Linked DNA regions of Homo sapiens: region 1 is linked to region 2. Evidence: fine-mapped expression QTL. A gene starts in region 2. The other region holds a variant in brackets. All regions are shown on one strand. Distances are from middle to middle.

Evidence for each region.
Region 1: its variant is fine-mapped to the expression of SCUBE2 in thyroid (GTEx, PIP 0.90).

What each region holds. Positions count from the first base shown.
Region 1 is chr11:9,054,790-9,060,162 of GRCh38, reverse strand. It overlaps SCUBE2 (signal peptide, CUB domain and EGF like domain containing 2), which reads left to right. Exons shown (of 23, transcript NM_001367977.2): 9 at 738-860; 10 at 4,254-4,370. NRIP3-DT (NRIP3 divergent transcript) reads right to left here. Exons shown (of 3, transcript NR_183663.1): 2 at 424-555. Among named protein-coding and RNA genes, the nearest start is that of MIR5691, 33 kb to the left of the region's middle. The variant C/T (reference allele first, on the strand shown) is at 2,618.
Region 2 is chr11:9,088,680-9,094,052 of GRCh38, reverse strand. SCUBE2 (signal peptide, CUB domain and EGF like domain containing 2) reads left to right here and starts at 2,454. Exons shown (of 23, transcript NM_001367977.2): 1 at 2,454-2,657; 2 at 4,224-4,346. The coding sequence starts at 2,525. It overlaps MIR5691 (microRNA 5691), which reads left to right and starts at 3,674; the gene lies at 3,674-3,741.

The sequences.
Region 1 (5,373 bases), 34 kb after region 2:
AATTCATTTCAGACAGTGGCCTTATTAGAAAAAGGCAGTTAAAGGAAGCATTCATTTGCAGGAGATAATATCAACATATCATACATAATAGCCTAGAGATTATTATATAAATAACAGTCAAGATGATTATCCAGAGGACTTAATGAATAACTGTACCATTAACTTTTACTGATGAAGAGCGACCCCAATGACTTGCTCATATTTCATGGGCAAGAGTACAAAGGATTAGCCCTTTAGCATGATAAAAAGTAGATAACCAATTGCCAGACGAAACTGGGAAAAGATAAGATTGAGTATCAGGAATCATTTTAAAACATTGAGGCTATTTGATCATTGTGTAATTTGCCAAAACAAATGCTCTAGTCCTTTATAGCTTTAATCATTAAACTTGAATACATAGTGTACTAAAGAGACCCATCTTACCTTGAGAGAGCAATACAAAGATGAGAATATAACAGGACGTCATCATTCTTTCCCAGAGTTTGTTTCCTTAATGCCAATCAAGGGCATCATAAGTCAGCGTTCTCAAGACGATGAAACACTTGTCTTTCAAAACTGGTTAAGCCAGATAAGAAAACATGTATAAGGTTAAAAACATCAGCAAACATTCTTAAATGCTTTTGTGAGTCTTTTTCTTAATTTCAGAGACTAATGAACACACACAATGGCCCTTCAGGGAGTTGTGGGAAATGAGGCAAGTATTGCTCTCTGATATGCCCAATGCTTTCCTGTTGCAGATATTGATGAGTGCCAGACCCGCAATGGAGGTTGTGATCATTTCTGCAAAAACATCGTGGGCAGTTTTGACTGCGGCTGCAAGAAAGGATTTAAATTATTAACAGATGAGAAGTCTTGCCAAGGTATGTGCTGAAAACATAGCTGTGCTGCGCAATGGCCCACAGGTTGGAGCAGAGAGAACGTAGCACCCTCCTGGCAGAGACTGGCTTATCAGGCTTCTTGACAGGGCCACTAATCCAATCTCCTTCCTAGGCTTCACTCATTTCATCTATTAGGTAAAATAAAAACACTGATGTAGCTCACAGGTGTATTTGGAAATTAAGCTGTTAATGGTTAGAGAACACCTTAAAGAACCCATCGATGTGATGACAGCAGAGCTCACTGCTAGAAATGGAATGGAAAACAGAATGCAAATGGGGTTCCAGTGGGGTGTTGAGATTATGAATAATTTTCCTTTTCTAAAATTTCCTTTAATGTTATTGAATTTATCACAAAAGTTGGTGGCAAAGTCTGTAGATTTAGTTAACATACCTCCCTAGCAAAAACTTGGAGTTAACCCATGATCAAGATTATGTACCAATTGGTCTCTTTCTTATAGCACTTGTTTTTTTAATTTTTTAATTATTTATTTATTTACAGACAGAGTCTCACTCTGTTGCCCAGGCTGGAGTGCAGTGGCATCATCTTGGTTCACTGCAACCTCCGCCTTCCTGGGTTCTAGCAATTCTCCTGCCTCAGCCTCCCGAGTAGCTGGGATTACAGGCATCTGCCACCATGCTCAGCTAATTTCTGAATTTTTTTTTTTTTTTTTTTTTTTTTTTTTTTTTTTGAGACAGAGTCTCGCTCTGTCACCCAGGCTGGAGTGCAGTGGAGCTATCTTGGCTCACTGCAACCTCCGCCTCCCAGGTTCAAGCGATTCTCCTGCCTCAACCTCCTGAGTATCTGGGACTACAGGTGCGCACCATCACACCCGGCTAATTTTTGCATTTTTAGTAGAGACGGGGTTTCCCTATGTTGGTCAGGCTGGTCTTGAACTCCTGACCTCATGATCTGCCTGCCTCGGCCTCCCAAAGTGCTGAGATTACAGGTGTGAGCCACTGCGCCTGGCCAATTTCTGAATTTTTAGTAGAGTCAGGGTTTCACTGTGTTGGCCAGGCTGGTCTCGAATTCCTAACCTCAGGTGATCCGCCCTCCTAGGCCTCCCAAAGTGCTGGGATTACAGGCGTGGGCCACCGCACCTGGCCCAGCACTTGCTTTAAACCATCAGCCTTTGATCTTTGAAGAGAGGGAAGGCAGAGAGGGAGGGGGAGGGCTTGTGGGGAGGAGATGCTTGTTGATCCTTAGAGAGGATTTCAGACCCCTTCTCAAACACATCCTTCCCATATAAGGGCTGCAGCAAGGAGACTTCTCTAGGTAGCAGTTGTTGTTAGTATTAGCAGCTGTTTTGGGTGGGGGAAAGCTGTTTTCTATTTTTAGATGAGCACCTTCCCTTTGATATGCAGAAGAAGTTCTCAGGAAAGATGTGCTGTAATGTATTCTTGCTCCATTTTTGGGAATAAGGACTAATTTATTTTGTTAGAAATCTCAGAATTAGGCTGGGTGTGGTGGCTCACACTGTAATCTCAGCACTTTGGGAGGCTGAGGCAGGTCGATCACTTGTGGCCAGGAGTTTGAGACTAGTCTGGCCAACACGGCAAAACCCCGTCTCTACTAAAAATACAAAAATTAGGTGGGGGCATGGTGGAGGGCGCGGTGGCGGGCACCTGTAATCCCAGCTACTCAGGAGGCTGAGACACCAGAATCGCTTGAACCCAGGAAGCAGAGGTTGCAGTAAGTCGAGATCATGCCCACGCACTCCAGCCTGGGGGATAGAGCGAGA[C/T]TCCATCTCAAAAAAAAAAAAAAAAAAATCAGAATTAAATAAAAATCAGAGTATCAGATTTCATCTTAGATAACAAAGATGTAGCATTACCTTTTTACAAAAATATTATGGTGTGATGTTTGTTTTGTTTTTCTCTTGGTTTGTTCTTAATGCATAATTTGTCAGGCAGTTCAAGTATATTCCTCTTTAAATTCAGTAAGTTAATTCTAGATAATTATTGTGTGGTTTTCTTCAGTTTGACTTGGAAAGCAAATTTGCTGTTCCACATAATGTTTCCTAGTGTATAGAGCAGGCAATACTGTTGAAGCTGTGTAAACACATTAAAAAGGAATTAGAAAAGTGATCTCATTATTTTTGGCAAAGCAAAAGCCCATACTGAGCAGCCAAAGTCAGCTACTGAACAAGTGCACTTTCTCGACAACTGGCTGATATTAATAACAGATTTCATAAAATGGCATCAATTCCTAGGGAAGAAACTAGGTTTTTCTCATTTTTCACTGATCGGTCTTGGTAGAACAAATACTTGCACAGAACAAATTTACTGAAGAAATGCCAGGATTTCTGGGAAAAGCTAGGGATGAAGAGGTTTTGCAAGAATTTGCCCTTTTTTATTTTGCTTTTTCATTCTTCCTGTTCCTTCCACATTTTTGCCTTTTATTAACATAGTTTCTCATGGCACACTCGGTGTTGAAAAAAGTGGTCTAGCAGTGGTCTAGTTGGCTTCGACTGAGTGCGGCACTGGTCCTGGTTTATCCATTTGGAGACACAAGTCGTAACTATGTTAAAATCCTCCAGAGTTCAGGGAGTGAAGCACTCAAATTCCAGCCTACAAGAAAGAGGTTGAGGGCCAGACCCAGGGAAAGAGATGCTGAGATGGACAAATGCAGCCTCCTGAGGCTGCTGTGCATGACCCCCGCTGCAGCCAAGGAGGCTTCCACACTGAACCAGGAGGCTAGCAGACTCATAGGACTGGCACATAGGGGAGGAGCAAAACCAAGGCATCGGCCAAAAGCATCCAATGTGGAGCTGAACTACCACATTTCAGGGCCTGCAAAGAGAAAATTAGTGAGGATATTAGTATTGATGCATTCTTTCAGTGCAGAGGGCATTAAAACCTAGGATTAACTGGCCTCTTGGGGCCAGAAGACTAATTCTGAGAAAATAAGAAAGGGATGGGAACTAGATTTACCTCCAAACCAAGTGTTTTCTCCTTTCAATTTGCCGTAGTTAATAAATTAATATTGCTGTTTTACTAATAGTTATATGACAATAAAAATGCATAGCTAGCACCTGTAGCTTACAAAACCCTTTTTAGGTATGTTATCTCATTTGGCTTCATTTAAACATTTTAAATTAGCCCTGCAAGTACGCATGGGTGAAAGAGACCAACTGAGTTTTGAGGGAAGTGCAGTTTGCAACAGAATGTGGAAATGAGGGCCGTGGCAGTCAGTATACTTCTTGTGGGCTGCTCCACACTTTCTTTAACACAAGTGAGTGAGGAAAATGGATAGATAATGTTTTTTACTCTGTGTGTATTGTTTTTGGTGTTGGTCAGCAACTGGTATTTATCATAAACCTATTCTTCACTCATCCCTCAGAGTGGGTTTCAGCTCCCCTCTCCCTTTGACCATTACAGATGTGGATGAGTGCTCTTTGGATAGGACCTGTGACCACAGCTGCATCAACCACCCTGGCACATTTGCTTGTGCTTGCAACCGAGGGTACACCCTGTATGGCTTCACCCACTGTGGAGGTGAGCAGACTGCCCCTGTCAAGTTGGGAGGGGAATGAGGCTGGGCCTGGAGGGGAGCAGGGCCTACCCCTGAGGTTTGCTTTCCTACATTGGGGTATGAAAGGTACATTGCAGTCCCTGAGCAATAGCGGTGAGTCCATCAACTTGAGAGCAGGATCTGCTAAAGGAAATCTCCCCACATGTATCCCTTTAACACACCGAGTGTGAAATGGAGCAGAGAGAAGAACTGAGCTCTTCCAGCTGTGAATTCTCTATCGACTTGATTGACTTGCGGCTGTATTCAGAGAGTGGAAGGGTATCTCAGGAGCTGATAACCTATCTATTGGAACATCTCAGCAGATAGTAAAGTCACAGTCCTCAGAGAGGCTTGGGGGGCACCCACCAATTCCACAGCCCTGCTATGCATAGGAACTGGCTGCAAAGCCTTGGTTTGAGTCCCACAACTAGGTCTTTGAGCTGGAAGCAGAACTATGAAGTTTCTCTCTCCACTCTGTGCCCATTTTGCAAAATGTTCTCATGTCTCATAACCTCATGGTCAAGCAGGCTATGCCATAAACTGGATTTGTTACCAACTAACTCCCACTCCACTCCCCCAGCCATCAGATTCACCCAGCAATCTTTGAGAATACAGGTTCAGATTCCAATTCAGAATGTCTAGGACTTCCAAGGTCATCTTCCTGAGGATCTATAGGATTTGGGAACCACTGGCTTAAATACTTCCTGACCAGTCCTGAGTCTTGTGCTTTAGAAGATTGGATATGCTGGGCGTGGTGGCTTACGGCTCTAATCCCAGAACTTTGGGAGGCCAAGGCGGGCGGATCACCTGAGGTCGGGAGTTCGAGACCAGCCTAACCAACATGGAGAAACCCTGTCTCTACTAAAAATACAAGATTAGCCGGGCGTGGTGGCGCATGCCTGTAATCCCAGCTACTTGGGAGCTGAGGCAGGAAAATTGCTTGAACCCGGGAGGTGGAGGTTGCAGTGAGCCGAGGTTGTGCCATTG
Region 2 (5,373 bases):
AGAAAGGTGGGCACTGAATGGTGTCCCATGAGTGCAGAGTGGCACCTGCTTATGTGTAGTTCAGGGGCACGCATGGCCGGCCACTACCAGGCTTTCTTCAGCCTCCTCAAAGGCCCACACCAGTGTGACTGGGCTGGCTGGACTGCCTCTTCGCACCCCTGAGGCCTGGTTCATGGCCTCTCAGCCTGTGGAGAGGAGACAGGGAGAGGAAGAGGGAGCTTTAGCCTCAGTCCAGGGACGGTGTCTGAGGCCTTTCTGAGAAGTTTGTGGGGACCTCAGCTGCAGAATAGAGGGCAGCCTGCAGCCAGAGTAGAGCCAACCAAGTTCCTCCTGACACCAAAAACACTGACATTTGGACACAGTTTTCCCCTGGAGCTTCCCCCTGTGGAAATTCCCGGTTGTAAGCCATATTGACTTTAATCTCAAGTGTCAAAAAGGTTGCCCAGGAGTCTGGGAGCCAACAGCTGAAAGCACGTTTGTAAGGATGTCAGCGCAAACAAAATAGGATACAGAACATTTTTTGAGATCTGTGCCAGTGGTGGACTTTTCTGGGAAACATGACAAAAGCTGACAGTCTTAGGCAAAAAGGCGCTGATTCTTGTCATTATTAATTTATGTCCTTACTGAAAGATCAAGTTAGGGAAAGGTAAAGGGGAAGAATAGCACATGTGTGATTTCTTTGCCAGGCACAAGGGCGCTGCAGGAGGCTCCCCCTAGAGTTTAATGGGCAGCTTTATGTATTTATATGCTTTAACTGGAGCTAAAGAGGTCTGTGCCACACAATGGGCAGTTTCTAGTTGGATTTTAAAAGAAATAACTTTGATCATTTCAAAAGCAATGAAGCCTGATGCAGTGGAGAGAAAAGAAGGCAGTAATTTATGGCTACCATTAAGGACACAAAGACAAAGGTGGAGAGAACGTTTCACTAACTGAAGATTTACAAATGTGTAAAAACCACCCTTATGACCAGAAATAGCTGAGTGTCTCTCTCAGCACCAAACAAAAGGGAGTGGGAGGGAGGCGCAGACAGAAAGAGGGACGCAACCTGCCTGCCTTCACTGAAAGGGTCAAAAGAAAAACAACTACAGAAAAGTTATTTTCTCAGATAGCTCCATCAAGCAGCTGCACTAGCCACAGCCCAAAGAGGCAGGCCCCCGTGGGCATGTTCGGGGGCTGGGGTGGCAGACAGTGGGTACTGAGGGTGCAGAGGCTGGGAGCTCTGGGCTGTGGATAGGCCCCAAGAAGACATAAGAGTTTTTGTGCATGAGCTAGGTGGGGATTTTTTGGTGACATCTATTTTTTTTCTGATCTCCAAAGGAATGGTGTGTGTGTGTGTGCGCGCGTGCGTGTGCCTGCATATATACATATGTGTATGTATATAATCGCAGGAGAAAATTGAATAAATACGGAGAAGCTCAGTGAAGAACATTACTATCCCTAAGTGTGATGTTTGGTTGCGTCCGGAAATTGTTACTATATTTGTTCCTGGAGTGATGGTGGGTGTATTGGGCTCCAGCCATCCGTGTCAAGTGTGATATGGGAAGACCCTGTGTACCTGTTCCCTTGCAAGGACTGTCTTTCATGGAAGGCTAGGTGCTAGGCCCTGCCTGTGTTTGAAGCTAGCCAGACCTGATGTTTATGAGTTCAGGTGATCGTAAATGCCACCTGTACTCCGGCAAAGTCGGGGCTGCTGTCTGTTGTCTCTGGTGGCTCACCTTTGACCTCTAGCCCCCTTCCCCTTAGGCTGCCCTGAGATATACATAAGTAGCTTGCAGGGATTCTAGGCCCAGTGTGCCCCACAGTGGGACAAGTGGACCAGTGCCCTCAGGGCTGTGGGATGGAGGATCCCAGAGGGCCTGGGGTGGGCAGTGTGGAGAAGGGTGCAGAGGGTGTGCTGGGGTGGGCAGAGAAGCCAGGGTCACCTTCTCCATTCAAACAGCTGTTTTCCCGAATTGGAAGTCACCCCCAATTCCTTCCACTCCCACCTCCCACCTCCCACGTGGAAAGCCCCAAGATGGCTTTGGGGTTTGGGGACTATACGGAACACTTTCTGGGCGCCCTGACCCCGAATATTTCAATCTAGAAGGGCTGTTTGTCCTCACATGAGGGCCTGGGTCGAGTTGTAACACACTGGAACAGGCGCGGCACCGAGGGCTCCGAGCGTTGGAGCGGAGCGGGGATGCGGGGGGCAGCGGGCTGGGTGCCAGGGCTGCGCGGGGCGCGAGGCACGGTGCTGCCGCCCCGCCAGGCTGACAGCCGCGCTCGGGCCACCGCGGCCGCGCCCCCTCCACCCGAGGCCGGGGAGGGGACGGGAGGAGGCCGGGCGGGGCGGCACTGCTCCCGCCTGCGCTTCCCGCCCCGGCCCGGGAGGGACCGTGTGAAAATGAGGCCGGGGCTCGGGGGGCGGGCGGGGCCGGGCCGGGGGTGGCAGCGGCAGCGGGCAGGGCGTCCGCGCACACCTCCCCGCGCCGCCGCCGCCACCGCCCGCACTCCGCCGCCTCTGCCCGCAACCGCTGAGCCATCCATGGGGGTCGCGGGCCGCAACCGTCCCGGGGCGGCCTGGGCGGTGCTGCTGCTGCTGCTGCTGCTGCCGCCACTGCTGCTGCTGGCGGGGGCCGTCCCGCCGGGTCGGGGCCGTGCCGCGGGGCCGCAGGAGGGTGAGTGTCCGGCCGCGGGGGCGCACCTGGCACAGCAGGCAGGGCCAGGAAGAGTGTTTAGGTCCCCGGCGGAGTCCAGAGCCGGGCGCGCGGGGCTCGGGGCTGGCGGCTGCAGCTCCGCGGGGGCCTCTGCTCCCCCCGGGACCTCACCCGCCGGCCGGGCCAAGGCGCCACGACCGCTGGGGCCCTGAGTCCTTCGGCCCGGCCTCGGACCCGGAGCTGCTGACGGTTCCCGCCCCGGTCCGGATGCCTCCAGAGCGCCTGCTAGTCAGACCGTCGCCGGCGAGCAGGCAGGAGGGTGCGGACCCTGGCCTTGGGGTCCCGCGCCTCAGCGTAGGCGGGGAAACTGAGGGCCGGGCCGGGCACATCCGCGAGGCGGTGGCAGCTTTGCCGTTTCTTTCTTTGGGGGCCGGCAAGTTCTGCTGATGGCTTCGGGGTGGGCTCCAGAGACTTTTCTGTCAGCGGAACAGCGCCTGTTCCGATCTGGGAATTACCCTGAAGCAGCAACAAGCCTAGGTTTTCAGCAGAGAACTTTGGTTTCCAGAGAGGACTCTGGACGTGCTGTGCTTACTGGACTTGCAATACTTTCAAAATGCTTTTGTTTTTAATTAATATCCTGGAGTAGTGTCAACCCAGGAAATACTTCTGCCAAGGCGGGTTTCCAGGTTGAGAGGATGGGCAGGGGTGGGAGTGCAGGGGGCCGGCCATGGGGACACCATCCCCGCTTCGCAGCATCTGAGAGCCCTGGATGACATCTGCTCCGATCCCGGGGCAGACTTCCCATAAATACTCTAAACCAGCGGGGTGCAATCTTTTGGCTTACCTGGGCCACAGTGGAAGAAGAAGAATTGGGCCACACATAAAATATACCAACACAAACGACAGCTGATGAGCAAAAAAAAAAAATAAATAAATAAATAAAAAAAAAATCTCATAATGTTTTAAGAAAGTTTATGAATTTGCATTGGGCCGCATTCAAAACTGTCCTGGGCTGCACGTAGCCCACGGGCTGTGTTGGACAAGCTTGCTCTGAGCTCCGAGAAAGCTGACAGACAGCTGCTTGGTGTTCAGAGCTTGTCTGTCCGTTTGGTCCTTTCCTCCTTTAGCGGGCATGTAGGTACTATTGCCTACTCACATGCCAGGTACTGCGCTGGCTTGGCATAAGGGACACAGACGCAGTCTGTTGTCAAGACATTGTCTAGTGGAGAGAGAGGAAGGAAAACAGTGACAACCCTGCCTGATGTGTGCATGCAAAGCCATACATATGCGAGCACTTGGTGAGGGCAGCTACAATGGGGGTCATGGCAGGCTTCCTGGAGGAGGTGGATTTGAGCTAAGTCCTGAAGGCCAGTAGGTGATGGTGGGGGTAATTTCACGTAGAGTGTCCGGGCTGTTCCTGGAAACAGGGACCCAGAAACAGTTTGGTTTATCCCAGGGATCCCAAGCAGCTGTAGCTTGTGAGGAGTGAAGCGGGGTGGGCTGGTGAGGATGATGCCAGACAGGGCCGAGGCCAGATCACACATGGCCTGGGAGCCTGTACCAGGTGTCAGCTGTGCTCTTTTGCAGATGTAGATGAGTGTGCCCAAGGGCTAGATGACTGCCATGCCGACGCCCTGTGTCAGAACACACCCACCTCCTACAAGTGCTCCTGCAAGCCTGGCTACCAAGGGGAAGGCAGGCAGTGTGAGGGTAAGTGCCTTGGGGACCATGTGGGGGGACTGTAGGGAAGCTCCTACCTCCTTAGCTCTTGCAGTGGCCACTTATGTTGGTAAAAGTACTGCCCCTCCTCTCCCTTTCCCCCAGCCCCTGAATCACATCACCTGCTCTCTGAAATATATTTCAGATCTTGGACTGGAAACATTAGGTCTTCCCCAGAGCTGCTCACACAGTTTTATCTGGCTCTGAAATGTCCTTTTGTCTAGCTTCTGGAAAAGAAAAGAGATGTGTTAGTATCTTTGGGTCCCACTCAGTTTTGGGGCAGAAAGTAAACATCCATGCTGATCAGGAGAGCCATGCCTGCCAGAGCAGGGCTGATCCTGCACCTCCCTGGGGCGGTTTGTACCTTTGCCCTGAAGTCTGAGTGCTAGAGAGTCCTGCCCTCCCCTACCAGCTCAGGAGGCTCCATCCTGTTTATGGCTTTGGCCACAATGTTTGGCATTGTGACGTGCCAAGCTTCAGAGTACACCAAGGACCTTCCTCGTTTGGAGTTACAGGTTCACTCTGGAGAGATGTGTGCAGAGGGGCATTTTAGCCCATAGAGCTGCAGGTCTGAGAACCTGTGGTTTGGACTCTGCCATTTTATAATCTGGACTAGAGTCATGAACTGTGAAGTTCATAGCTGGCCAGAGACTGGACACTCGAGGCTGTTCCTGGAGATGGAAATCATGACACATTGGAGCTGACTGGGCTATTCAGGTAGCTCTGGGCCAATGCTATTACTCATTTCACAGATGGGGACACTGAGGGCCAGAGGAGTTGTGGCCATGATCACACAAGTTGCCTGCAAGTGAAAGAAAGTCAGGTCTCCACCCCTAGCTCTGTCCCCAACCCCACGTTTCTCATATTTACTCAGCCTGCTGCTGTCCTTCTTTGGATGAGTGAGAAATCCCACTGTCTATAGTCATCCCTTGCAGGAAGAAATTAGATGAGGAGCACTGAACTCATCTCTGAGTATCCCTCCTTGCTCCTGGACCCAACCTTGACAAGTATGTTGGTG